Homo sapiens: one gene and its partners. The protein of the gene in region 1 purifies or fractionates together with the protein of each later gene. This does not show direct contact. Each region holds a gene or a part of one and is shown in the gene's direction. Other genes may lie near its edges. The genes, in order: HAVCR2, PIK3C2A, CNTNAP1, MAP3K21, PLD2, TSPAN7 and GOLGA7.

Region 1 (4,110 bases):
TTGCAGTGAGCCGAGATCATGCCATTGCACTCCAGCCTGGACAAAAAGAGCGAAACTCCATCTCAAAAAAATAAATAAATAAATAAAAATAAAATAAAATAAAATGAGAAATTGATTATGATCTCTTGAGTAACTGCCACTCTGCAATGCTATGGGAAGTACACACATTGAACAAGTTGCATATTTATATTAAATGCCATTTGTTTATATTGAACAAATTTGGTATTTATACCCAATGCATTTAATGGCATAAATGTGAATGACAAAGAAACTCAGGAAGGCAAGACATAGAGGAAGGCCACTGGCTTTTCAGAAACCACTCAGCCTGTGAGCTCACTTCCCTTTTATAAAAAAAAGCTTTTGCTTTTAAGGTGTCCAGATAAAGGTCACACTCCCAGAGCTGAGGCTACGTGAGTCTAAGCTGTTACCTCAGTTATGGGAGTGTGGCTGGAACTCAACACTTTCTGATCATTCATGGCCAAAGCCTCTTGGGGTAGGGGAGAGGGGGCACCTTGTATGCATGAGATGAAACAGGATACCAAGATCCCCTTAATTCTACTCAGAGTAGAGGAAAGGAACTGTTGCCAAAAGGAACATGTTTTTTCTAAATTGAAGAGTTGGAAGTTTGAAGGTCAAAGTCAGAATATTAGAACAGAGAGCCATGCATGTATTATCTAATACAATTTTCTCATTTTATAAATTATATAAATGAGGAAACTGAGACTCAGCAAGGTTATAGGATACAACCTAATCTGTGTTAGAAGAAGGATGAGAGTGAGGCTTATGCTGGGAGTTGCTATGGTCTGTAAATGTGAGGATAAGGAACATGCCATTCACTGTTGTGTTCCACTTCCTAGTCCAGTGCCTGGTGCAAAGTAGGGGCTTCATAAACTTTGGTCACAGGCCTGATGAAGGGACTGATTTGAGTGAATGAATCCATGGATGATGCATCTGTACTTTGTGTTCCCCGCTAGTCAGATGGACTCGGACATGCTCCATTTCAGGTGTATCTCATCTGAGACATTATTAGAGGGTTCTCTTTATGTGCCATGACTGAGTAGCGTTTTCTTCCACTGAAGTATTGCTTCCTCTTTGTTGATATCACAGGACAGACATCAGAACACTTACAGGATGTGTGTAGTGTGGCATGACAGAGAACTTTGGTTTCCTTTAATGTGACTGTAGACCTGGCAGTGTTACTATAAGAATCACTGGCAATCAGACACCCGGGTGTGCTGAGCTAGCACTCAGTGGGGGCGGCTACTGCTCATGTGATTGTGGAGTAGACAGTTGGAAGAAGTACCCAGTCCATTTGGAGAGTTAAAACTGTGCCTAACAGAGGTGTCCTCTGACTTTTCTTCTGCAAGCTCCATGTTTTCACATCTTCCCTTTGACTGTGTCCTGCTGCTGCTGCTGCTACTACTTACAAGTAAGTCTCGGCATGGATATTTACAATGACATAATGGTGCTGTACAGAGGACAAGGGAGAGATACAAGGATGGCCATTGTAATGTTGTTTGTAATAGCAAAAGCTTGGAAGCAACCTAAATGTCCGTCGATGAGGGAGTGGGTAAATAAATGTGATATAATCATGATACAAACAGTGAGTCTGACAAAACATACTGGTATAGAATGTCTCAAAATTATAATGTTATTAAAGAAAAAAAGTTGCAGAATAATGCATATATTAGGCTTCTATTTGTGTGTGTGCATTGTCGGGGAGCAGGAATATGTGGACATTTCTTAATGTATAAGCTCTAGGAAAAGGAACCAGGGAATGGTAAAGAGTTGGGAGAGTAAGGCATATTTTTCTTTTCTTTTCTTTCCTTTTTTTCTTTTTCTTTTCTTTCTTTTTCTTTTTTTCAATTGAGATGGAGTCTCACTCTATTGCCCAGGCTGGAGTGCAGTGGTGGCACCATTTTGGCTCACTGCAATCTCCGCCTCCCAGGTTCAAGTGATTCTCCTGCCTTAGGCACCGGAGTAGCTGGGATCACAGGCGTGCACCACCACACCCAGCTAATGTTTTTAATTTTTAGTAGAGACAGGGTTTTACCATGTTGGTCAGGCTGGTCTCAAACTCATGGCCTCAAGTAATCTGCCCATCTCAGCCTCCCAAAGTGCTGGGATTACAGGCGTGACCCACCGTGTGCCCGGCCACTTTTTCATACACCTTTGATAGTGTTTGAATGTTTTTACTGTAGTTGAGTCATATGAAAACAAAGGGGACATAAAAAATCAAAAGAAAATATATAATGAATGTTTTATCATATATAAAATATATATAGTTTTTTTTTAATGGAATTAACTTTGTCATTTGAGGAAAATGAGGAGACAAGTCTCAATCATTTTAGGAGATTTGTTTGCCAAAGTTAAGGAGGCACCTGAGAGACAGGTCTATGACTTTCTCAGAAGATGATTTTGAGGGCTCCAGATTTAAAGGGGACAAGGTGGGATATTGAGAAGCACTCAGTTTTCACATAAAAAAGGGGGGGGGGCAGAGGAAAAATATGGGGAATCTGCATTTTACATTAGATAACACAGACAAAATGGGGTAGGGAAACAATCAGATAACGCATTTGTGTCTGGCCAGGGTGACCGCACCGGTAAAGATGAGCTATCAATCTGCATTGCACAGCTGACCAGGAATTTCCTTGTGGGCAAAATATGGGGGAGGTATGCAGCCTTTCATCCTGTAGCCATCTTATTCAGGAATCAAAAAGAGGAGGCAGGTTTCTGTGACCCAGTTCCCAGCTTGACTTTTCCCTTTGACTGAATGAGTTTGGGGTCCCAAAATTTAATTTCTTTTCACAACTTTAAACCTTAAAACAACTCCATGAGTAGTTTCAAATACACAAGATCCTTATTTAACCAAGGGTTTGTATTTACTGTGCACTTGCTGCTTAAAAAGAGAAGTATGTTAGGAGAGCCTCCCTTTGTTGATGAACAAGCAAGTAGCCCAGATGGGCGGGCCGTTTCCTGGCTGACCATGACTAATTTTCTGATTGTCTGTTTCCATCAGCCCTGTTCTCCCGTGTTCACAGAATTGGGCCACAATTCTCTCCTAGGGCAGTGTTTCTGAAAGTGAGGTTCTGAGACCAGCCACTTCAGCAACACTTGAGAACTTGTTAGAAATAAAAGTTCTCAGGCTCTACCACAGGCCAACTGAGTCAGGAACTCTAGCAGTTGAGCCCAGCAATCTGTGTTTTCGCAAGGCTTCCCAGTGATTCTGATGGCCTTCACATCTGAGAAGCATTGTCACAGCGAATCATCCTCCAAACAGGACTGCAGCAGTAGCTTCCTCTTTATTCTGTAAGACATGGCTTGCAGTTTTCCTGAAATGGAGTAACCTCACTCACCGCTTGAGTCTTGGCTCTCCTTCTCTCTCTATGCAGGGTCCTCAGAAGTGGAATACAGAGCGGAGGTCGGTCAGAATGCCTATCTGCCCTGCTTCTACACCCCAGCCGCCCCAGGGAACCTCGTGCCCGTCTGCTGGGGCAAAGGAGCCTGTCCTGTGTTTGAATGTGGCAACGTGGTGCTCAGGACTGATGAAAGGGATGTGAATTATTGGACATCCAGATACTGGCTAAATGGGGATTTCCGCAAAGGAGATGTGTCCCTGACCATAGAGAATGTGACTCTAGCAGACAGTGGGATCTACTGCTGCCGGATCCAAATCCCAGGCATAATGAATGATGAAAAATTTAACCTGAAGTTGGTCATCAAACCAGGTGAGTGGACATTTGCATGCCATCTTTATGAATAAGATTTATCTGTGGATCATATTAAAGGTACTGATTGTTCTCATCTCTGACTTCCCTAATTATAGCCCTGGAGGAGGGCCACTAAGACCTAAAGTTTAACAGGCCCCATTGGTGATGCTCAGTGATATTTAACACCTTCTCTCTGTTTTAAAACTCATGGGTGTGCCTGGGCGTGGTGGCTCACACCTCTAATCCCAGCACTTTGGGAGGCTGAGGCCGGTGGATCATGAGGTCAGGAATTCGAGACCAGCCTGGCCAACATAGTAAAACCTTGTCTCCACTAAAAATACAAAAAATTAGCCAGGCATGGTTACGGGAGCCTGTAATTCTAGCTACTTGGGGGGCTGAA
Region 2 (3,500 bases), on another chromosome or scaffold:
CCCAACAGTGTATAAGGTGTTAAGTGTTCCTTCACCCAGATTTTATCTGTTTTATTTTGTTTATTTTGTAGTATATTTTTCTAAGTGGCTTAAAGTCCAAAGTCATATGGGGTAGGTTGCAAACAAAATATATTTATGTTTAGAAATCTAATTGAGTGTTATGTTTATTTTTATGTATAGGCCTTGCTATTTTGGAAGCTACAAGAAAAAAATAGAGGAAGGAAGGTTTGGTCTTTTTAGTGGACATGGCTCAGATATCTAGCAACAGCGGATTTAAAGAATGTCCATCTTCACATCCGGAACCAACAAGAGCAAAAGATGTGGACAAAGAAGAAGCATTACAGATGGAAGCAGAGGCTTTAGCAAAACTGCAAAAGGATAGACAAGTGACTGACAATCAGAGAGGCTTTGAGTTGTCAAGCAGCACCAGAAAAAAAGCACAGGTTTATAACAAGCAGGATTATGATCTCATGGTGTTTCCTGAATCAGATTCCCAAAAAAGAGCATTAGATATTGATGTAGAAAAGCTCACCCAAGCTGAACTTGAGAAACTATTGCTGGATGACAGTTTCGAGACTAAAAAAACACCTGTATTACCAGTTACTCCTATTCTGAGCCCTTCCTTTTCAGCACAGCTCTATTTTAGACCTACTATTCAGAGAGGACAGTGGCCACCTGGATTACCTGGGCCTTCCACTTATGCTTTACCTTCTATTTATCCTTCTACTTACAGTAAACAGGCTGCATTCCAAAATGGCTTCAATCCAAGAATGCCCACTTTTCCATCTACAGAACCTATATATTTAAGTCTTCCGGGACAATCTCCATATTTCTCATATCCTTTGACACCTGCCACACCCTTTCATCCACAAGGAAGCTTACCTATCTATCGTCCAGTAGTCAGTACTGACATGGCAAAACTATTTGACAAAATAGCTAGTACATCAGAATTTTTAAAAAATGGGAAAGCAAGGACTGATTTGGAGATAACAGATTCAAAAGTCAGCAATCTACAGGTATCTCCAAAGTCTGAGGATATCAGTAAATTTGACTGGTTAGACTTGGATCCTCTAAGTAAGCCTAAGGTGGATAATGTGGAGGTATTAGACCATGAGGAAGAGAAAAATGTTTCAAGTTTGCTAGCAAAGGATCCTTGGGATGCTGTTCTTCTTGAAGAGAGATCGACAGCAAATTGTCATCTTGAAAGAAAGGTGAATGGAAAATCCCTTTCTGTGGCAACTGTTACAAGAAGCCAGTCTTTAAATATTCGAACAACTCAGCTTGCAAAAGCCCAGGGCCATATATCTCAGGTATAGTCTTTTCTTACTAACTTCTCAAACTTAGTATAACACAGAGTTCATATTTGTGTACATAATTTGTGTTTTTTTGTTTTTGTTTTTGTTTTTAAGAAGGAGTCTCGCTCTGTCGCCCAGGCTGGAGTGCAGTGGCGTGATTTCGGCTCACTGCAAGCTCCGCCTCCCAGGTTCACACCCTTCTCCTGCCTCAGCCTCCCGAGTGGCTGGGACTACAGGCACCCGCCACCACACCCGGCTAATTTTGTGTATTTTTAATAGAGACGGGGTTTCACTGTGTTAGCAAGAATGGTCTCGATCTCCTGACCTCGTGATCCACCCGTCTCAGCCTCCCAAAGTGCTGAGATTACAGGCGTGAGCCACTGCGCCCAGCCCATAATTTGTTAAGAAAAAAAAATATTTTTCACTTTGAATTTTGTTTTTCTTTGCTCTCAAGTGTGCTTTGATTCTTTGCTTGTGTGGCAAAGGATGAAATGTGATTAGGCCAATTGAAAAATTGCTTGCTATTAATATTTTTCTAGGATTGTAAATAAAAAGCCTCTAATGAAGGAACTGGCTGTCACTGAGAGGCATTTAAGATATTTTAAATTTGTCTGTCCATGTCTCCTCATTACATATGCTCCCTTCTTTCTCTTCCTTATTCCTGTTTTTTTTTAAATGCAAATAAGAAATTTTGGTTTTTAGCCCCATTATAGAAATTCTCACGCATTTTGTTTTGTTGTTTTTAACCATGAATCAATGAATAAATAACCCCAGAGAGAAGAGCAATTTAAAGGACTCTCCCTTTAAACACTTTTGTCGATAAAAGTGAAGAATGAAATATTACCATTGCAGATTTGTGTTTTGCTTTTATATCTGTGTATCCTGGGAATGTTTAAGCCTCATTCTCACTTTAACGTGAATTAATATTCAGCTAATTAGATCAGCACTTACCTACTATTTTATCATTGGGAGTTAACTAGCATTTAGATGGGGAAGGGAGGGATGGATTTTGCATGATTTGGATCGGTTTATGTTGAATTGTTGACTTTATTTATTACTATTATTATTTTGAGATGAAGTTTTGCTCTTGTTGCCCAGGGTGGAGTGCAGTGGTGCAGTCTTGGCTCACTGCAACCTCCACCTCCCAGGTTCAAGCGATTCTCCTGCCTCAGCTTCCTAAGTAGCTGGGATTACAGGCATGTGCCACTACACTGGCTGGTTTTGTATTTTTAGTAGAAACCGGGTTTCTCCATGTTAGTCAGGCTGGTCTCGAACTCCCGACCTCAGGTGATCAGCCCACCTTGGCCTCCCAGTATGCTGGGATTACAGGCGTGAGCCACCATGCCCGGCCAAATTGTTGACTTAAAAAAAAAACATTTTGGATGTCTGGAAGGAAGAGAAATCGGTGTTAAGAAGGTTTAGACAGCATGATGGCTCATGTTTATAATCCCAGCACTTTGGAAGACTACGGTGGGAGAATCACTTGAGCCCAGGAGTTTGAGACCAGCCTGGGCAACATAATGAGAACCTGTCTCTAACACAATTACAAAAAAATTAGCTGGGCGTGATGGCATACTCCTGTGGTCCCAGCTACTTGGGAGGCTGAGGTGGGAGGATCGTGTGAGACCAGGAGGTTGAGACTGCTGTGACCCATGATTGTACCACTGTACTCCAGCCTGGGCGACAGAGCAAGACTCTATCTCAAAAAAAAAGGGGCAGTTGGGGGGAAGGCACTGGTCCCCCTAATTTTCCCATCCTGCAGGGCCCAGGTCACTGCTGGATTCATATTCGGGTCAATTTCTAATAGGCAGATGACTCCCCAGCTGTGGGTCTCTATTTTATAGGTTTCTCATGAGAGAAATGAATTCTGTGTTTAGTGCCTGGAGTCAGGATTTGAGATGTAGTCTGGATTTAAGATGTCAGCTGTTTATAGTTGTTTGGGAAGGGCAACTGCCTTGAACCTGGAGACAGACATTGGGGCTCTGATAAGTTAGTCTTGCTATCAAAGAAAAGGAAGCCCCTTGTCTTGTAGGGAGCTGCGCTTAGGCTCAAGCCTTGCACTGGTAGAAGGCAGAGCCCCACAATGAATGCATTGTAGCTACAATAGATTGTCTTGAAGTTAATACAGATGTTTATAAATTACCTTGATTAATTTAATTATATCTTAAATTCTGAACTTCCCATTATTGAAAAGTCATTTACCTA
Region 3 (3,500 bases), on another chromosome or scaffold:
TAAGGCCTGGACCAAACTGCCCCTTTCTTGTAGCATTTGGTGCTAGCAAAACACTGGAGTTGAGTGAGAACTGGATTCCAGTCTCAGCTCTACCACTACACAGAGATGTGACCTCGGATGGGGCACTTCCGAGCCTCAGTTCCCTCCTTGTAAACACACACACACAGACGCACACACATTGTATCTCATTAGCTTTTCATAACACCCGCACATGAAATAGAAGCAGCTCATGTGTTCCCAGTTTTACAGACAGGAAGCCAGGCTAAATGGCTTACCCTGTCACACACTCGCCAATGGCTGTTGATCTATTCGCCCACTCTCCCTGATTGCCCTGGGCTTTGTTACACGCTGCTGCTCTGCCTAGGAGCTTGGACTCCATGGAGTTCTCCTGGCTTGAGGTTTCACTCTGTCCTGCCCCACCCTCAGGCAGCAGCCCTATCCAGCCAAGACCAGGTCACACCACCGTGAGCGCAGGCGGAGTCCTCAATGACCAGCACTGGCACTATGTGCGGGTGGACCGATTTGGCCGCGATGTAAATTTCACCCTGGACGGCTATGTGCAGCGCTTTATTCTCAATGGAGACTTCGAGAGGCTGAACCTGGACACTGAGGTGAGAGACTAGGGAGGTGCTATTTCGTGGTAGGGTAGATGCTGGATGAGTGAGTGCAGGTCGGTCTCTCCCTTTCTCTTTTCCTCTGTCTCTCAGAGGAAAGACCTGGCATTCAGGCTGTGGGTGGTGGCTCATGCCTGTAATCCCAGCACTTTGGGAGGCTGAGGTGGGAGGATTGCTTGAGGCCAGGTGTTCAAGACTCACCTGGGCAACATAGTGACATCCTACCTCTATTTAAAAAAATTTTTTTTTTCAAAGACCTCGCATTCCAATTCCTGAATATCCTAGCAGCCCTTGGCAAACTTGCCACTCACCAGAAAAAGGCCTGTTTTTTTTTTTTTTTTTTTTTTTTGTGGGTGTTGTTGCTGTTAGCATGCAGACTCCCAGGCACTATTTCAGAACTAATGAGATGGGGTTTGGAAATTCAGATTTTGGGGACTAGGCAAGGTAGGAAAATTGTTCCCTTGGATCCTCCCACAACTTTGTGGAGTTGTTAAAGACCCTGACCCCATCTGCAGATAAGAATCCCAGGCAGGCTAATTGACTTGCCCAAGGGCGTGCAGCCGATTTGTGTTGGAGTCAGAGCTTGAACTCAAGCCTTGAAAGGCCTAGCGAGCTTTAGTACCGACACTGGGGAAATGTGTGTTTTAAGTCTTTTACAAAACCCCATCTGGCATTTGGGAAAGCATACGGCGGGGACGCGCGAGAAAGGCAGGCGCCCTCCTGTGCCCAAGAGGCCTCATTCCCCACGCCTCCCGCAGATGTTCATCGGAGGTCTGGTGGGCGCCGCGCGGAAGAACCTGGCCTATCGGCATAACTTCCGCGGCTGCATAGAAAACGTAATCTTCAACCGCGTCAACATCGCAGACCTGGCCGTGCGGCGCCATTCCCGGATCACCTTCGAGGCCAGTGGGCAGGGGGGTCTGGGAGGACAGGATATCAAAGCGTCGTGGAAAGCAAAGAGGTGGAGCGGGAAGAGATATTGAACATCAGATAAAAGCGGAGAATCCCTCTGTCCCCAGCCAGATGCTCAAGTTGGGAGGGGAGCGGGTCTCACCTGAGGTGCATGAGCCACGCAGGCCCCTAGTTAAGAAGCAGTGGTCGGGTCCAATCACCTTCTTAGTTCATAGATGAAGAAAGTAAGGCGCAGACACAGGGAGTGGCTTGTCCAGGGGTCGTGCAGCTGCACGGTGGCTGAGTAGGGACTTGAACCGATGGCTTCTCTGATATGCCCCCCTCAACCCTCTCCGACTCTGGAGCTCTGTTGGGAAGCTGGCAGGAGCCAGGTCTGTGGTCCAAAATTGCCTCTCGATACTGGAAGGAGAGAAGCGGTCGAATCGCAGACGGTGGAGATCAGCGAGAGCAAGCGAGCAGAGTTCCGAGGGCCGACTGGGTTGGGGCCCCCTCCACAGATGGACGAGCTTGGAGGGGAAGAGGTCACGTCATGGTTGGAGATCTCACCCCCGCCAACACCGAAGGAGGGCGGTGACCAGGGTCTTAGACCGGTGTGAAAACTGAATTCCCAGCTGAGGCAGAGGCGGCTCACGGGTGTTGATGCGTCTTCACTTTTGCCCCTAGGGTAAGGTGGCTTTTCGTTGCCTGGACCCGGTACCGCACCCTATCAACTTCGGAGGCCCTCACAACTTCGTTCAAGTGCCCGGTTTCCCACGCCGTGGCCGCCTGGCAGTCTCATTTCGCTTCCGCACCTGGGACCTCACCGGGCTTCTCCTTTTCTCCCGTCTGGGGGACGGGCTGGGCCACGTGGAGCTGACGCTCAGCGAAGGGCAGGTCAACGTGTCCATCGCGCAGAGCGGCCGAAAGAAGCTTCAGTTCGCTGCTGGTGAGGGCGTTTCGGGGGAGGCACAAGAAGAGAAGAGAAGTGTAGAGGATCCCAGGAAAGTTGTAGGCCTGGACTGAGGCCTTTACATTCTGGAGAGGGGAGAGGAGTGAAGGGGGCAGGGCAGGAGGCCCCAGGGTACTGGGAAAAGGTGGGAGTGGCTAGAGGCAGTGAGGAGGCGAATCTGAGGGACTAAGTATTCTTGGAGAAGGGGGAAGCCTGGGAGTCCTGGTATTCTCCAGTTCCAGAAGGCCCCTGGAGATTTGGTTACTCGTTTATAACTGTGCAGACTCTGTGGCAGTTGCTGGGTCATGGATAATGAAGAGACATTCAGAGAGGTCTCCACTGGGTGTGAGAAGTGTAATCACGGGGGCACACAGGCTGCTACTGGGACACAGTGGGGCTGCTGCTTCCCCACTCAGAACATTCTTCTACCCTAGTTGCTGCTTCCCTCCACCCACACCATCATCCATTCTTGTCCAGGGTACCGACTGAATGACGGCTTTTGGCACGAGGTGAATTTTGTGGCACAGGAAAACCATGCAGTTATCAGCATTGATGATGTGGAAGGGGCAGAGGTCAGGGTCTCATACCCGTTGCTGATCCGGACAGGGACCTCATATTTCTTTGGGGGTAAGTGGGGGCCAACCTGACCAGACCTCTGTTTCTGGGTGGGAAGGCTCCATCTAAGTCCACCCAGATGGGGCCACATGGAGAATTTTGGAGGGATCAAGCCCTCTTCCCCTCTGGGGCCTCAGGGAGTGGAAGGTCATTGCCATCTACACTTTGGTTGTAGTCCCCTTTCTTCCTTTATGTCTGGCTCCCCCTCAGCATGTCCCTGGGGGAGGGTCTTTGGGGTCTCCCCTGGGGAGGATCTCACAGGGGTGGTTGCTCCAGGTTGTCCCAAGCCAGCCAGTCGATGGGACTGCCACTCCAACCAGACGGCATTCCATGGCTGCATGGAGCTGCTCAAGGTGGATGGTCAACTGGTCAACCTGACTCTGGTGGAGGGCCGGCGGCTTGGATTCTATGCTGAGGTCCTCTTTGATACA
Region 4 (4,265 bases), on another chromosome or scaffold:
TGCTTGCAGTATCTCCAAAGTATGCCCATACTTTAAATAGTTAGATTACTTATAATACCTAATATAATGTAAATGCTCTGTAAATAGTTGTTATGCTGTATTTTATTTGTATTATTTGTATTGTTATTTTTTGGGTTTTTAAAAAACATTTTTGACCAGCTGTTGGTTGATTCTGTGGATGCAGAAGACCCACTGTAAAACTATTAACTCATTTAGTCTTCCTAAAAACCCTATAAAGTAGGTACTATTTATTATATTCCCATTTTATAGATGAGAAAACTGAGTCATAGAGAAATAAAGAAACTTGCTCAAGGTCACACAGCCAATAAATAGTTTGATCTGAGAGACAAAGAAAACTGAAAAGACAATAAATTTATCTTTATGTAACTCAGAATGTTACTGTATGTCCTATCCTCATAATATCTAAAATTGTCCCTTCTGTTATTGGAAGTACAGGATCCACACGTTAGGAAATTCTGGCCTACTACAGGATAATCTAATATTTTAGAATTTTAATAACTAAGCTCTTCTATCTTTTTAGCCTCATCACCTGCCACAGTAACCTACCAACGTCTGGCACCCAGCCATTGCCAATGCTTCCTAAACCCAAACCTGTGGGTTTCCAGGGAGACTGGGGCATTTTCCATCTGAGTAGACAGTAAAAATAAGCAAAGGATTTACCATCATGGAGCTTCTGGGACTATACCGACCACGGGTCACTCTGCGCTGCGATCTGTAACCTAGTCAGTTCTGAGATGCACGGTGGCTCAAACGCACTTAGCATGGTGACTTGCCACTCGCACTGGCCCAGGTCTGGCACCGCGCTACAATTTCTTCTGTAGCCCGTTCTGAGATTCTGTCACTCTCCCTGAACTGCAACTCTCTCTCTCCCCGCCACACCCTAAAGCCCCACATCTTCTCAACCCTCTCCCACCGCTTCTTGGAGAAGCGTCCCCTCCCTCAGTCTTACCTTTGGCTTAATTTAAACTCTCCCGAAAATTTATAGCGGATGACGGCCGATCCCGCCTCCCAGACCATGTGGGCGCGGCTCACCATTGCTCCGGAGCACCTGCGGCGGGGGCGGGGTGGGACCAGCCAGGCGGGCCCAGGGGGCGGGCCCGGCCCAAGGTGGTGGGGGACGGGCCCGGGCGCCAGGGGCGGGACGAGGCTCTGGGGACTGGCACAGAAAAGGGAAGTGAACCTGGCGAGGGCGGGGCGGGATGGTGCAGTTGGTGGGGAAGGGTGGGGCGAACCTAGGAAGGCGGTCCCATAGGGCGGGCGCAGACTGGGCGCCCGGGACGGGTCAAGGAGGGCGGAATGAACCTGGAGAGGGCGGGGCGGCTGGGGGAGGGGCGGGAAGGCCCTGGGGACTGGCCTAGGGGCGGGCCCGGGGGGGTGGGGGGGCGGTGCGGAATGGAGCCGGAGGGGGCGGGGCGGCCCTGGCGCGGCTAGGGTGGGGTGGGGCGTCCCAGGCTCTGGCTAAGGAGCGCGCGGCGGGCGGGCCGGCCGCAGGGCCTGGGCACGACCATGGTGGGACGTCGCCCGCGGCTTCGGGGACCGCTGCGGCAGCAGAGGCGGCTGGCCAGGAACGCGGGCCGAGGCTGGACCCTTTGGGCAGCTAGCCCGTGATCTCTGCCGTCACCGATCGCGATTCCTACCCCCTCGCCTTCCCCCGGCGCCGACGGCCACACCGCCGGACGATGCGCGCCCGCGGCCGCCCGGGAGGCTGAGCCCAGCTTCCCGCTCCGCCTTCCCCGCGCAGCTGCCCCCATGGCTTTGCGGGGCGCCGCGGGAGCGACCGACACCCCGGTGTCCTCGGCCGGGGGAGCCCCCGGCGGCTCAGCGTCCTCGTCGTCCACCTCCTCGGGCGGCTCGGCCTCGGCGGGCGCGGGGCTGTGGGCCGCGCTCTATGACTACGAGGCTCGCGGCGAGGACGAGCTGAGCCTGCGGCGCGGCCAGCTGGTGGAGGTGCTGTCGCAGGACGCCGCCGTGTCGGGCGACGAGGGCTGGTGGGCAGGCCAGGTGCAGCGGCGCCTCGGCATCTTCCCCGCCAACTACGTGGCTCCCTGCCGCCCGGCCGCCAGCCCCGCGCCGCCGCCCTCGCGGCCCAGCTCCCCGGTACACGTCGCCTTCGAGCGGCTGGAGCTGAAGGAGCTCATCGGCGCTGGGGGCTTCGGGCAGGTGTACCGCGCCACCTGGCAGGGCCAGGAGGTGGCCGTGAAGGCGGCGCGCCAGGACCCGGAGCAGGACGCGGCGGCGGCTGCCGAGAGCGTGCGGCGCGAGGCTCGGCTCTTCGCCATGCTGCGGCACCCCAACATCATCGAGCTGCGCGGCGTGTGCCTGCAGCAGCCGCACCTCTGCCTGGTGCTGGAGTTCGCCCGCGGCGGAGCGCTCAACCGAGCGCTGGCCGCTGCCAACGCCGCCCCGGACCCGCGCGCGCCCGGCCCCCGCCGCGCGCGCCGCATCCCTCCGCACGTGCTGGTCAACTGGGCCGTGCAGATAGCGCGGGGCATGCTCTACCTGCATGAGGAGGCCTTCGTGCCCATCCTGCACCGGGACCTCAAGTCCAGCAACAGTAAGTGGGGCCAGAGGGAGGTGGGGGAAGACTACCTCCGTGCCAGCCCAGGCGGGCTCCACAGGACATAGTACCAGATGGAAAGAGGTGGGAGTCAGCCTTAGGGCGCCAGCAGCAACTCATGCCCAGGCCTTCAGGGCTCGGAAGTCCAGCTAGTCCTTGGTTACTTGCTTTGGGGCTGGTGACACGCTTAACCTTGACTTGCCTTTGGGTGCTTTTTAAAAAAGTTCAGACCAGACTTGCTTGTAGAGGAAACATTTGTAAAATACCTGGATCTCCTAGAAACCTCAGGGGGCAGTCTGGCCTTTCAATACCAGAGGTGATTCATCTGGGTAGGACTTTGCAAACCGAGGCCTTCTGCAGATTATATGGAACCCATGACCGTCTTCACCCGGTGGCCTTCATCAAAGTCCCCGAATGCACTCGGGGACGTCAACTTTACAAGTGCTGTATTGAGGTTGCTGTTTGCCTATTCAAAATATGACTTCATGTCTCTTACCTTTTCCAAAGACTGTTTTCATTCAAATGTCTCTCTATGGGCCAGGCGCGGTGGCTCATACCTGTAATCCCAGCACTTTGGGAGGCCGAGGTGGGCGGATCACCTGAGGTTACGAGTTTGAGACCAGCCTGGCCAACATGGCGAAACCCTGTCGCTACTAAAAATACAAAAATTAGCCCGGCGTAGTGGCAGGCGCCTGTAATCCCAGCTACTCGGGAGGCGGAGGCATGAGAATCACTTGAACCCGGGAGGCGGAAGTTGCAGTGAGCCAAGATCGCGCCACTGCACTCCAGCCTAGGAGATAGAGTGAGACTCTGTCTCAAAAAAAAAAAAAGTGTCTCTACGTGAAATATGATTTTATTATTGGTTCAATGGCTTCTTTTCTCCAGACAAGAGGCACTGGTGTGCACCGTAATGCACTTTTGGGTTAATAACAAGTGCATTGTCCTTGCACAGGTACTTGAAACCTTGAAGACCTGGCCAGTGTCATTGACTTTGTTTATAAATCAGGGTGGATTTTCCAGATGTCAATAAAGAACTGACAAATGACTTAAATGCAAATCCTATGAAACTTTGCTGTATAAAAGAGCCTATAGAATTGCTGTTTGATGTTGGTTCTTTAATATTGAAGATCGCTTCATATTCTTATAATGAGATGAAATCCCAGGGAAGGTTAAAGGATGCAGCCAGCCCTGGCATTGGCCTACAACAGCTGGAGGTCTTTCAATCCTGTGAAACCTGCTAGGACAGGAGCTAGCTCAAGTGAAAACATTGTCCCTAAAGAAGAGTGACAAGAAGAAATTTACTTGAAAATTACTAATGTAGCATTTTCACTGGGAATTGTAAATAATTGGAATGTTGTAGCTAAGCATAAGCATTAGGTTTTATTTCATGATCCTCCTTCCCCCCAAGTCTCTCTATAATTTAGATTGCATCTGCTTAGGTGATGAGAGCAAAGTCTAACAAAATATGTTGTTACTGGTAGCGGTGTATTCTTAGTACTTTGACAGACCACATGAAGGACTATAGCATTGCTTGCTTTTGAACTGTGTTACAGTAAAAACAGAGCGCAATTTCCTAAAATATACTTTTCTTTCGATAATATATATATATTTTTTTCAATAAAAGAAACGTCTGACCAGGTGCTGCCATAGAATGGGTGACTTGTCCATGTGTTCCATAAGCCCTATT
Region 5 (3,390 bases), on another chromosome or scaffold:
ACCACCGCCCCTGGCCAAAAAAAAAAAAAAATCTTTTTTTTTTTTCTTTTTTTTTGAGAGGGAGTCTCACTGTCGCCCAGGCTGGAGTGCAGTGGCGCGATCTCGGCTCACTGCAGGCTCCGCCGCCCAGGGTTCATGCCATTCTCCTGCCTCAGCCTCCCGAGTAGCTGGGACTACAGGCACCCGCCACCTCGCCCGGCTAATTTTTTGTATTTTTAGTAGAGACGGGGTTTCACCGTGTTAGCCAGGATGGTCTAGATCTCTTGACCTCGTGATCTGCCCGCCTCCGCCTCCCAAAGTGCTGGGATTACAGGCATGAGCCACCACGCCCGGCCAAAAAAAAAAAACTTTTGTGTTTTGTTTGTTTGTTTGTTTTCTTTTTGAGACGGAGTCGCTCTGTCACCCACGCTGGAGTGCAGTGGCGCGATCTCGGCTCACTGCAAGCTCCGCCTCCCGGGTTCATACCATTCTCCTGCCTCAGCCTCCCGAGTAGCTGGGATTACAGGCGCCCGCCACCATGCCCAGCTAATTTTTTGTATTTTTAGTATAGATGGGGTTTCACCGTGTTAGCCAGGATGGTCTCGATCTCCTGACCTCGTGATCCGCCCATCTCAGCCTCCCAAAGTGCTGGGATTACAGGCATGAGCCACCGTGCCCGGCCAAAAAAAAAATCTTTTAAAAGTAATTTTTTTCACAGGTTCTGAGGATTGGGGAAAGAACAGAAAAAGAAGAAAATTTAAAATAAAAATAATTTTTTAAAGCATCAAGGTAGTCATCAAAGTCAAGACAAATCAGAACTCTGTTGGCTTCTTTTACACTTATTTTACTATTTTATATTGCATTTATTTTGTTTTTGTTTGTTTGTTTGTTTTGAGATAGGGTCTTGCTCTGTCACCCAGCTAGAGTTCAGTGGCGTTACCACGGCTCACTGCAACCTCGACTTCGCCAGCTGAAGTGATCCTCCCACTTCAGCCTCCCAAGTAGCTGGGACTATAGGCACATGCCACCGTGCCTGGCTAATTTTTGTATTTTTTTGTAGAGATGGGGTTTTGCCATATTGCCCAGGCTGGTCTTGAATTCCTGAGCTCAAGCAATCCACCTGCCTCATCCTCCCAAAGTGCTGGGAATACAGGCGTGAGCCACCGCACCCAGCCAATTTTGAATTACCTGAGTAGGGACAATGTAACTTTTCTGGTACTCAGGTTCTCTAAGGATCTTAATCTGGCCCTGCTGGGACCCCTTTCTCCTATAGTGTGATTCTTGGAGCAAATACCCGGCCAGACTTGGATCTCCGAGACCCCATCTGTGATGACTTCTTCCAGTTGTGGCAAGACATGGCTGAGAGCAACGCCAATATCTATGAGCAGGTGGGAACTTGGGAGGGGTGGGGGAGAGTGGCCTGGGGAAATTTGTGGATTATCCTGCTCAGGGTAGGATGGAGAGAAGCGCCACCATACAGTCATTATTGGAAGGGGGATGAGGGCCTGGGGACATTTGCTATCAAGAGATTTAGTGGCCCAGGCCGGGTGCAGTGGCTCATGCCTGTAATCCCAGCACTTTGGGAGGCCAAGGCCCGGTGGATCACCTGAGGTCAGGAGTTTGAGATCAGCCTCCCAACATGGCAAAACCCCATCTCTACTAAAAATACAAAAAAATTAGCTAGGTGTGGCTGGGAGGCTGAGGCAGGAGAATCTCTTGAACTCAGGAGACAGAGATTTCAGTGAGCCGAGATCACGCCATTGCACTCCAGCCACCTGGGCAACAAGAGCAAAACTCTGTCTCAAAAAAAAAAAGTACAAAAGTTAGCCGGGCATGGTGGTGGGCACCTGTAATCCCAGCTACTCAGGAGGCAGAGGCAGGAGAATCACTTGAACCCGAGAGGTGGAGATTGTAGTGAGCCGAGATCGCACCATTGCACTCCAGCCTGGGCAAAAAGAGTGAAACTCCGTCTCAAAAAAAAAAAGAGAGAGAGAGTTAGTGGCCCAGGGTCAACGGGGGGTATGGAGAGATGGTATGGGGGAAGGGGTCTAGCCTAGTTGGACTTAGATTGTTGGGAGAGTCTCCCCAAGCCTTACTGGCGTCCATGCCCCCGCCCACAGATCTTCCGCTGCCTGCCATCCAATGCCACGCGTTCCCTGCGGACTCTCCGGGAGTACGTGGCCGTGGAGCCCTTGGCCACGGTCAGTCCCCCCTTGGCTCGGTCTGAGCTCACCCAGGTCCAGGGCCACCTGGTCCACTTCCCCCTCAAGTTCCTAGAGGATGAGTCTTTGCTGCCCCCGCTGGGTAGCAAGGAGGGCATGATCCCCCTAGAAGTGTGGACATAGTTGAGGCCCCCGTCAGGGAGAGGTCACCAGCTGCTGTGCCCCACCACGTCTGGCTCCCTGCCCCTTAACCCCAAGGACTGAGGGCAGTGCCCTTTGAGATCTGGGGAGGCAGGCATTCCTGAAGGGAACTAGAGGTGTTACAGAGGACCCTTACGTGAGAAATAGCTGAAAAGGGCACTCCCAACCCTGGGCTGGGGAGGAGGAGAGAGTCCCAGAGCTCATCCCCCCTGCTGCCCAGTGCAAACCACTTCTCCATGCTGCAAAGGAGAAGCACAGCTCCTGCCAGGGTGAGCAGGGTCAAGCCTCTTATTCCAGGAGAAGGGGGCTCTGCCCCAGGCCCTACTACCCATTGTTCCCTTCCTCTTCCTGCCCTTGAACCCCCTCCCTGTCCCAGGGCCCTCCCAGCCCATTGCTGCCAAGGTGGAGGGAAGGATAAAGCCACTTCTGGCTTCAGCCCCCACCAGGGGAAGGAAGGAGGGCACATTAACTCCCTCCACCAGCCTGCTGACAGACACTAACTTTGTATCCGTTCAATAAGCATTTCATAAATAAAGGTGTAGAAAAGGTTCATGCGTCTTCCTTGGAGGAACTAACTGCTCGTTCCAGCCTCCCGTTCCTGCCCACACGGGGCACCAGTCCCCTTCACCTTATCTCCACCCTCCTCCACTCTCCTCTCTCCACCTCTGTTCTACCTATCTGTGGCTTCGGGAGCTCGGTCACCTGGCTCCTGAGAGGAGAAGGTGTTGACACAGTGCCGCCTGGGTAGAAGGACGGGCAGGGCCCAACCAGGGCACCTGGAGAACTGTGGAGCTGCTATCACAACCGCAGGTGAGGGAGATGCTCTGAGAAGGACCTAGAGAGGCTGCCTCTTGTTCAAGCAACAGCCCTGGTAGAGGCTTAATGAAGGCCCTGTGGGAGTGGTTGAGGGTATAGGCTTAAGGTCAGGAAGACCTGGACCCAAATCCTGGACTCCTCAATGAGAAGCTAGGTGAACTTGTCAAGTCATTCACTTCTCTGGGCCTCAGTGGTCCCCGCTGGGAAATGGGAATAATACTTACATGACTAG
Region 6 (3,500 bases), on another chromosome or scaffold:
TTCAAATTTGGCCACATTGCTCTGTGCTGATTCTCACCTCTCTTGGCAATAGCTTCACACTCTCCTCTCCCTCTTTCAGATCACTGGGGTGATCCTGCTGGCTGTTGGAGTCTGGGGCAAACTTACTCTGGGCACCTATATCTCCCTTATTGCCGAGAACTCCACAAATGCTCCCTATGTGCTCATCGGAACTGGCACCACTATTGTTGTCTTTGGCCTGTTTGGATGCTTTGCTACATGTCGTGGTAGCCCATGGATGCTGAAACTGGTGAGTATGTCACAACATAATACTGCTTTCTCAACTATATTTTTGTAAAAATATAAATTACATGGAGGTGAAGTGGTTCGTCTTGAGGTCACAGACAAGACCTTAACAATTTCAGTCCAGACTCTTTCCTAATCCATCCTTTAATCCCCTAGAGGTAAAAACAACCCCAAACACAGCCTGGCACACTAAATCTAGTCCCAGTCCCTCTGGGTAGATGATGACAAAGCAGTGGCCAGTGATTGCAGTAGTCCATTTGTATCCTCATGACAAGATGCCCTGTTTCTTTTCTTTTTTTTTTTTTTCTTTTGAGATGGAGTCTCGCTCTGTTGCCCAGGCTGGAGTTCAATGGCGCAATCTCTGCTCACTGCAAGCTCCACCCCCTGGGTTCATGCCATTCTCCTGCCTCAGCCTCCCAAGTAGCTGGGACTACAGGCGCCCGCCACCACGCCCAGCTAATTTTTTTTGTATTTTTAGTAGAGACGGGGTTTCACCATGTTGGCCAGGATGGTCTTGATCTCCTGACCTCGTGATCCACCTGCCTCGGCCTCCCAAAGTGCTGGGATTACAGGCTTGAGCCATCGTGCCCGGCCTCGCCCTGTTTCAATTTTGAACTATATCTTAGAAGTCTCCTTAAGCATGTGATATGCAGCTTTGGTGGCAAGGCAGCATCCTGAACATAAGCAGACTTTCACCTCCAAGTTCCTATTGGAGAAATACTTTCCACCTCCTTGAGCCTGGCCATGCATGGATGCATGTGTGTGGTCTTCTCTGAACCTGTACTCCCTGTCTCAGTGCTATGAGAGTTGAGCTAAGCCAGAGCCTGCCACCCAGAGGACTTATGCAGTGTCAAGTGTTGGCTACCAGGACCAGTGCAGGGTGCATACTCTCATGGGACAGATAAAGCAGTGATGCTTCCCAGATGATAAGGGCAGACTATTGAAAGGCTATTACTGTGATTTTTAACTTTTAGGTACAGCAGTTAACTAATTCTCTATTCACTGTTCATGTTCTTCACTGATGGGGATTAATGGTAAAGGATTTTATAGATAAAAATTAGCAAGGACCTGTCCTCAAAATAAAATTTTGTTTAAAAATATTTATTTCAGGCATCTTACTCCGTGAAGGGAGAAGCAAAGATTCCATCAGGGCCATGTTGCCTGTCCCTGTGTAGCCCTAGGTTGTAGTAACATTTAATACCATCTAGTGATATATGTGGGTGTGAGAGTGGTTCATTCCAAAGGAACCATCTTCCCAACTGGCACTGGGCAGTCAGTCTCTGTTGTCAACCTCATAGAAGTGGTGCTTGACTTTGCCATTTTCTATCCTGCAGACCATACAGGAGGCTGATGCCTCAGCCGCCACTGATTCTTCAGGTTGATGGGCAAGCCATAATGAGGCCCATCCTGATTATGGGCCAGGCTTCTGCTGCTGTCACCTGGCACTCTATTCTAACACCCTGAGTCTACCTTCTAGTACTTCTCATAAACACTAGGGTTTCTTTTGGTCTAGTGCCATAGTCCTCAACTCCAGATACATGATTAAATCACCTGGGAAGCCATTTGCAAAAACCTTTGCCAGCATCCCACCACTAGCTGGTTGAAGTAGACTCCTCAGTGGTGGTGAGGCCCTGGCATCTTATTTTCTAAAAAGCTCTCCAGAGGATTCAATCTTGTAGCCAGTATTGAGAACCTTTTGTTTAGCACAATGAGTAGCAAGGGGAGAATTAACTTCAAAAGCAGAGAAAAGAAAAAATTCTAAAAAACCATCCATTCAAACAAGAAGGGAAGTGATGTGGTGTTGAGACCTGACTGATTCCAACTAACTGTTTAAAGTCTTTAGCGGCAAGGATGTAACCTCCTTGGACCTTTGTCTCCAATTGTAACAAAATAGAATTGGACTAAATCACCAAAGTTTCTCCCGGCCCAAATACTATGACTGGAGAGGGGTGGGAGAGGTGATATTTTTATGTTCTAATTCTCAATTTGCTTGTGGGGCAGAAGTATCCCATAGCTGAGTATAATGTCATAAAATAGGATATGTGTATAAACAATGGAATAGTTAGTTCTGGCCTCTTCTGGAGGTGGCTTCACACCACACTACCATTTTCTTCTCCTAACACAAGTTCACTGGCAGGTGAGCATTTTGGGAAGTAGAGAAGTTTTTTGGTTTGGGGCTTAATTTGGGTCTTTAAAAATGTCTTTTAGATCAAATTTTAGATTCTACATATGTGTAAGATCAGGCAGTTATTAGTCTTTTCTTTCCCTGACTTATTTCACTTAATCCTCTAGATTCATTCATGTTGTCGCAAGTGACAGGATTTCATTCTTGTTTATGGCCAAATAGTATTCCATTGTGTATAGACACATTGTGTCCAGTGTGTATGGACACTTAGGTTGGCTATTGTCAATAGTGCTGCAATATACATGGGGGCGTGGCTATCTCCTCAACATATTGATTTCATTTTCTTTGGGTATATACCCCGCAGTAGGATTGCTGGATCATATGGTAGTTCTACTTTTAATTTTTTGAGGAACCTCTACTCTGTTATCCATAGTGGTTGTACTAATTTACATTCCAATCAGCAGTGTATAAGAGTTCTCCCTTTTCCACATCCTCATCAGCATTTATTTTTTTTTTTGTCTAGAGACAGGGGAGGAGGGAGAAGCAGAGGTTGGCCAATGGGTACAAAGTCACAGCTAGATAGGAGGAATTATCTGGTGTTTTATTGCATAGTAGGGTAACTATAGTTAATGTATTACATATTTAGCAATAGCTAGAAGAGAGGATTTAGAATGTTCCCACCACAAAGAAATATTTTAGGTAATGGATATGCTAACTACTCTGATTTGATCATTACACAGAGTATGCATGTATCAAAACATCATACTGTACCCCATAAATATGTACAATTATTATATGTTAGTTAAAAACAATAAAATTTTTAAAATATGATTTGGTCCTTTTATGTGATAGAGGCTATACTGGGTGCGTATGATATTTTATTTTTCTCCTCACTACCACCATGCAGTGTAGGTTATATTTTCATATAATGTGATAGGAACTTGGGGGTTTAGATAACCCACCCAAATTCACACAGCTAATGTATGGAAGGCTGGGATTTGAACCCTTGTATGTTTCCTTCCAAAGCTAGGACTATTTCAACTCCAATGTTTACATTTGGGAAAAAAGCTCTAACCCCTACTGACCTGTATTTAGTACAAGCTCGTCCCAA
Region 7 (3,500 bases), on another chromosome or scaffold:
TTACAGGCATGAGCCACCGCACCTGGCCAGCTTACTGCATTTTTATGTTTACATTGCCTGTTCTGCTTGCATAATTAAACTCTTAAGGATTGAGACAGTGCTTTATCTTGAGATTTTTCATAGTATCTGATAGTAGGCGCTCAGTAAGTGTGAAACTAAATGAATGGAAAGAGGAATAGAGCCTAAAGTTACTTGAAATTTAGTAGAAAGAATAAAGAAGTACCTTATTGAGCCTTGAAGCTATCCAGTATTTATAAGAGGGATAAAATTAAACAAATTAAGCAGTTTTGGTAACTTAGGCCCAGATTTAGTCACCAAAAAAATTGTCAACTAAGAATGGTGAGAAAACAAGATAAATTAATGATAGCATGCATTAGTTGATTTTTTTTTTCCAAAACTTAATTTTTAAATATTTTCTTCTCTACAGATTGATAGGCAGCAGTTTGAAGAAACAGTTCGAACTCTAAATAACCTTTATGCAGAAGCAGAGAAGCTCGGCGGCCAGTCATATCTCGAAGGTTGTTTGGCTTGTTTAACAGCATATACCATCTTCCTATGCATGGAAACTCATTATGAGAAGGTAATGCTACATTTGTTTTCACAAAAATCTCTTAAAATCATGAAGAAGGCAAGTTTATTACACATTGATGCTTACATGGTGATAGTTGCCGTAAAATATTTAGGGGCATTTATCATTCAAATTGTGTTGTTCCTGTGTACAGAGGCACATAGTCCTGAGTCTTTCAAAACAGGTTGCAGTTGGTATGTCCACTTGCAGATGATGTGTCAATGTTCAGACTGGCCTACACTTAAGAAGAATGTAGAAAATCTATATGTTCTCTTCCTACTCAGCTTTCTGGGAATGTTTTTACTTTATTTCCCTAAATTTCACTCTCTTCTCCCACCTGAGTTCTTACTTTCTCTTTCCAGCTGCCTACTAGCTCCCGAATTGCTGATTTCTCAACTTAAGATGACCAGAAGTCAAACCTCCCACCTCCCCATTTTGTCAATAGCACCCCTGTCTTTTCAGTACCATCTTTGGGCATGAGGGATGAAGAAGAGGGAAAAATTAATCTGTTTTCAAAGACTGAAGTATCTTTCATTTTCCCAGTCATTAACTTTTTGTGATTTCCTCTGCCACTATCCTGGGTTATGCCCTTATTCTGTCTCTCCTAGACTATTGAAATAGTCTGACTTGTCTCATTTCTTCCCTCCTTTTGCTTTTCTAAACTATCTGCTGTTGTTTTTATAAAGCGCAGATTTACTTCCCCTACTACTTCTGCCAAGTCGGAGACCTTCCCTGGATTCCCATGTTTTACCACTGAGTAAAATTCAAGGCCCTGCTCAAGTTGACCTCAGCTTACCTTTCCAGCGCTACCTCCCATTCCTTCCTTCACTTTCTCCCTCAGCCAAACTCCATCCCTCACTGGTCAGCAAACATACCCACTGTGGTTCTCCTCCACCTGGAATGCTATCTTCCCAGGTTCAAATCCCACCAGTCCCTTAGGTCTCACTTCCATCTAACTTGTTCTCTGTTTTAGTCAGAATTCTTTCTCTTCTCTTGTGTCCCTACAACATTTTATTTGTATCTGTTTTCTGGCACTTGCCTCACTCTTCTTTGGAATGTAGCAGTTTATTTTCTTGTCTTATTTGCCTTTCAAGTATGTACTTTTCTTGAGGACAATGCCTTAACCATTTTGTATCCCTCTTCATGCCTAACACCATGCTTTGGGTATATCAGGCACTCATTGAATGTATGTTAAATAAATGACTGTAAATTAATCATGGTAAGCCCCTGGTATATCACTAAATTCTGACAGTGCTTAGAAAACGAAATGCTATAAGAATATATTATGACCCATCTGATAGAAATGTCTTACACTCCATGTAGTGGAGAGTGCATATAGTTGCAGCTAAAGTTTTTGGAGCTGTTGGCTGAAAATGCTGTTGTATTCTTCATTACCATCCTGTTCCATCTCATATAAACAGGTATATTTAAGTATAGTTATTTATATCCTTCCCCATGTTGAAACAGGAAAAGTTCTCTTGTCCCCCTCGCAGGGCGTGTGATGGGGTGTGGCTTGCTTCTTCAGTACCCTGCTGCTCAAACCTCTAGGAGAGCATACAGATGGGCAGGCTGTGGGGCTCCAACCCCACAGCAGTGTCTAGGGGTGAATGTTTTACAGCTCCTGAAGCCCCAGTGGGCATATGTTACAGGGTGCTCTTTTAGTTTAGCCATCCATAGGCGGCTTGTGTTAGCTCAATTAGACCCCTGCCTTATCACAAGGGCAGAGGGCTTTCTGTATCCCAGAGTTCTTGCCTTGGTGTACCAGAAGAATCGGATCACATGTGGGCTTGGAGAATGAGTGCAAGGTTTTGTTGAGTGGAAGTAGCTCTCAGCAGATGGGGGAGCCAGAAGGGAGATAGTTTTCCCCTGGAGTCAGGCCGCTCGATGACCGAACTCTTCTCCAACCACCCTGGCCAAACTCCACCTGATTCTGCCAATTGATGGCCTACCGGTGTGCCAGTGTGCTCCTACGCCAGTGTGTTCCTCTTGACATCCAGCCACCCTGTGTGTTCCTCCACTAATGTGCACCTCTTGACATCCAGCCACCTGTTTGTCTGCCTGCTGGGGTCTCAGGGCTTTTATAGGCACAGGATAGGGGTGTGGCAGGCCAGGGTGGAAATGCAGCATTTGGGCAGGAAAACAAAAATGTCTGTCTTCACTACTGGGCACAGGCCTGGAGGTGGAGCGCTAGCCAGGGACCATGCCCTTCTCTACCCAGCACTTCCCTGCCTGCTTCTGTATGATTTAAAGGGACCGTGCTCTTCCCTTCCATATCAATACACAGAGAAGCTTTCATTCCTGTTTAAACTTTCAAAATCAGAAGTTATCAAGGCTCTATGTCAGCTTTCAGTCTGTTTCAGTGTATCTCCTCTCTAATAATACGTTCAGTGAGTGAAGGCTCAGGGGATTTGTTTGCTCAGTAACTATTGAAAGCCTACTATGTGCTAAGCAAAGTGCTGGGACATAACGGAACAGGGCGAACATGGTTGCTGACCTTGTGGAGTTTATAATTAAGTGGTGAAAGCTGATAATAACAAGGAAACAAAGCCAGCAAAATTACACATTATGATAAGTGCCTTGAAGGAAACAAACTGGCCTATGCTTGAAAATAATAAGCGGGACCTAATCTAGGGTGTGTGGTCAGAAGAGGCCTCTGAGGTGGTGACATTTAAGCTGTTGCATGAAGGATGAAAAGCCTGGGGCATTAAGGCAGAAAGATGAACATACACAAAGGCCCAGAGAGCTTGATGGACCTTGGGAACTGAGAGAAGGTGATGCACAGGAGAGGAGGGGCAGAGAATGATGGGAGGTGGATTTGGAGAGGTAAGCAGGAGCTGTAACATGGAGTGCCTAGTCCATGGAATGAAGTGTAGATTTTATTTTTAGTGCAAGTGGGAAGCTACTCAAAGGATTTAATCAAGAGAGTGATGTG

Evidence for each region.
Region 2: the proteins of HAVCR2 (region 1) and PIK3C2A purify together in Homo sapiens (affinity purification with mass spectrometry; 2 studies listed by BioGRID and IntAct, with this or other methods). This does not show direct contact.
Region 3: the proteins of HAVCR2 (region 1) and CNTNAP1 purify together in Homo sapiens (co-immunoprecipitation; 3 studies listed by BioGRID and IntAct, with this or other methods). This does not show direct contact.
Region 4: the proteins of HAVCR2 (region 1) and MAP3K21 purify together in Homo sapiens (affinity purification with mass spectrometry; 2 studies listed by BioGRID and IntAct, with this or other methods). This does not show direct contact.
Region 5: the proteins of HAVCR2 (region 1) and PLD2 purify together in Homo sapiens (co-immunoprecipitation; 3 studies listed by BioGRID and IntAct, with this or other methods). This does not show direct contact.
Region 6: the proteins of HAVCR2 (region 1) and TSPAN7 purify together in Homo sapiens (affinity purification with mass spectrometry; 2 studies listed by BioGRID and IntAct, with this or other methods). This does not show direct contact.
Region 7: the proteins of HAVCR2 (region 1) and GOLGA7 purify together in Homo sapiens (co-immunoprecipitation; 3 studies listed by BioGRID and IntAct, with this or other methods). This does not show direct contact.

The regions. Positions count from the first base shown.
Region 1 is NC_000005.10:157,106,245-157,110,354, reverse strand, and holds the start of HAVCR2 (hepatitis A virus cellular receptor 2 precursor), read left to right. Parts: upstream 1-1,310; 5' UTR 1,311-1,371; coding exon 1,372-1,429; intron 1,430-3,392; coding exon 3,393-3,728; intron 3,729-4,110. UniProt on the Homo sapiens protein: Cell surface receptor implicated in modulating innate and adaptive immune responses. Generally accepted to have an inhibiting function.
Region 2 is NC_000011.10:17,166,487-17,169,986, reverse strand, and holds part of PIK3C2A (phosphatidylinositol 4-phosphate 3-kinase C2 domain-containing subunit alpha), read left to right. Parts: intron 1-180; 5' UTR 181-245; coding exon 246-1,310; intron 1,311-3,500.
Region 3 is NC_000017.11:42,685,531-42,689,030, forward strand, and holds part of CNTNAP1 (contactin-associated protein 1 precursor), read left to right. Parts: intron 1-426; coding exon 427-611; intron 612-1,372; coding exon 1,373-1,516; intron 1,517-2,189; coding exon 2,190-2,451; intron 2,452-2,931; coding exon 2,932-3,081; intron 3,082-3,345; coding exon 3,346-3,500. UniProt on the Homo sapiens protein: Required, with CNTNAP2, for radial and longitudinal organization of myelinated axons. Plays a role in the formation of functional distinct domains critical for saltatory conduction of nerve impulses in myelinated nerve fibers.
Region 4 is NC_000001.11:233,326,259-233,330,523, forward strand, and holds the start of MAP3K21 (mitogen-activated protein kinase kinase kinase 21), read left to right. Parts: upstream 1-1,465; 5' UTR 1,466-1,770; coding exon 1,771-2,575; intron 2,576-4,265. UniProt on the Homo sapiens protein: Negative regulator of TLR4 signaling. Does not activate JNK1/MAPK8 pathway, p38/MAPK14, nor ERK2/MAPK1 pathways.
Region 5 is NC_000017.11:4,820,541-4,823,930, forward strand, and holds the end of PLD2 (phospholipase D2), read left to right. Parts: intron 1-1,252; coding exon 1,253-1,367; intron 1,368-2,099; coding exon 2,100-2,324; 3' UTR 2,325-2,890; downstream 2,891-3,390.
Region 6 is NC_000023.11:38,666,042-38,669,541, forward strand, and holds part of TSPAN7 (tetraspanin-7), read left to right. Parts: intron 1-79; coding exon 80-268; intron 269-3,500. UniProt on the Homo sapiens protein: May be involved in cell proliferation and cell motility.
Region 7 is NC_000008.11:41,497,082-41,500,581, forward strand, and holds part of GOLGA7 (golgin subfamily A member 7), read left to right. Parts: intron 1-427; coding exon 428-580; intron 581-3,500. UniProt on the Homo sapiens protein: May be involved in protein transport from Golgi to cell surface. The ZDHHC9-GOLGA7 complex is a palmitoyltransferase specific for HRAS and NRAS.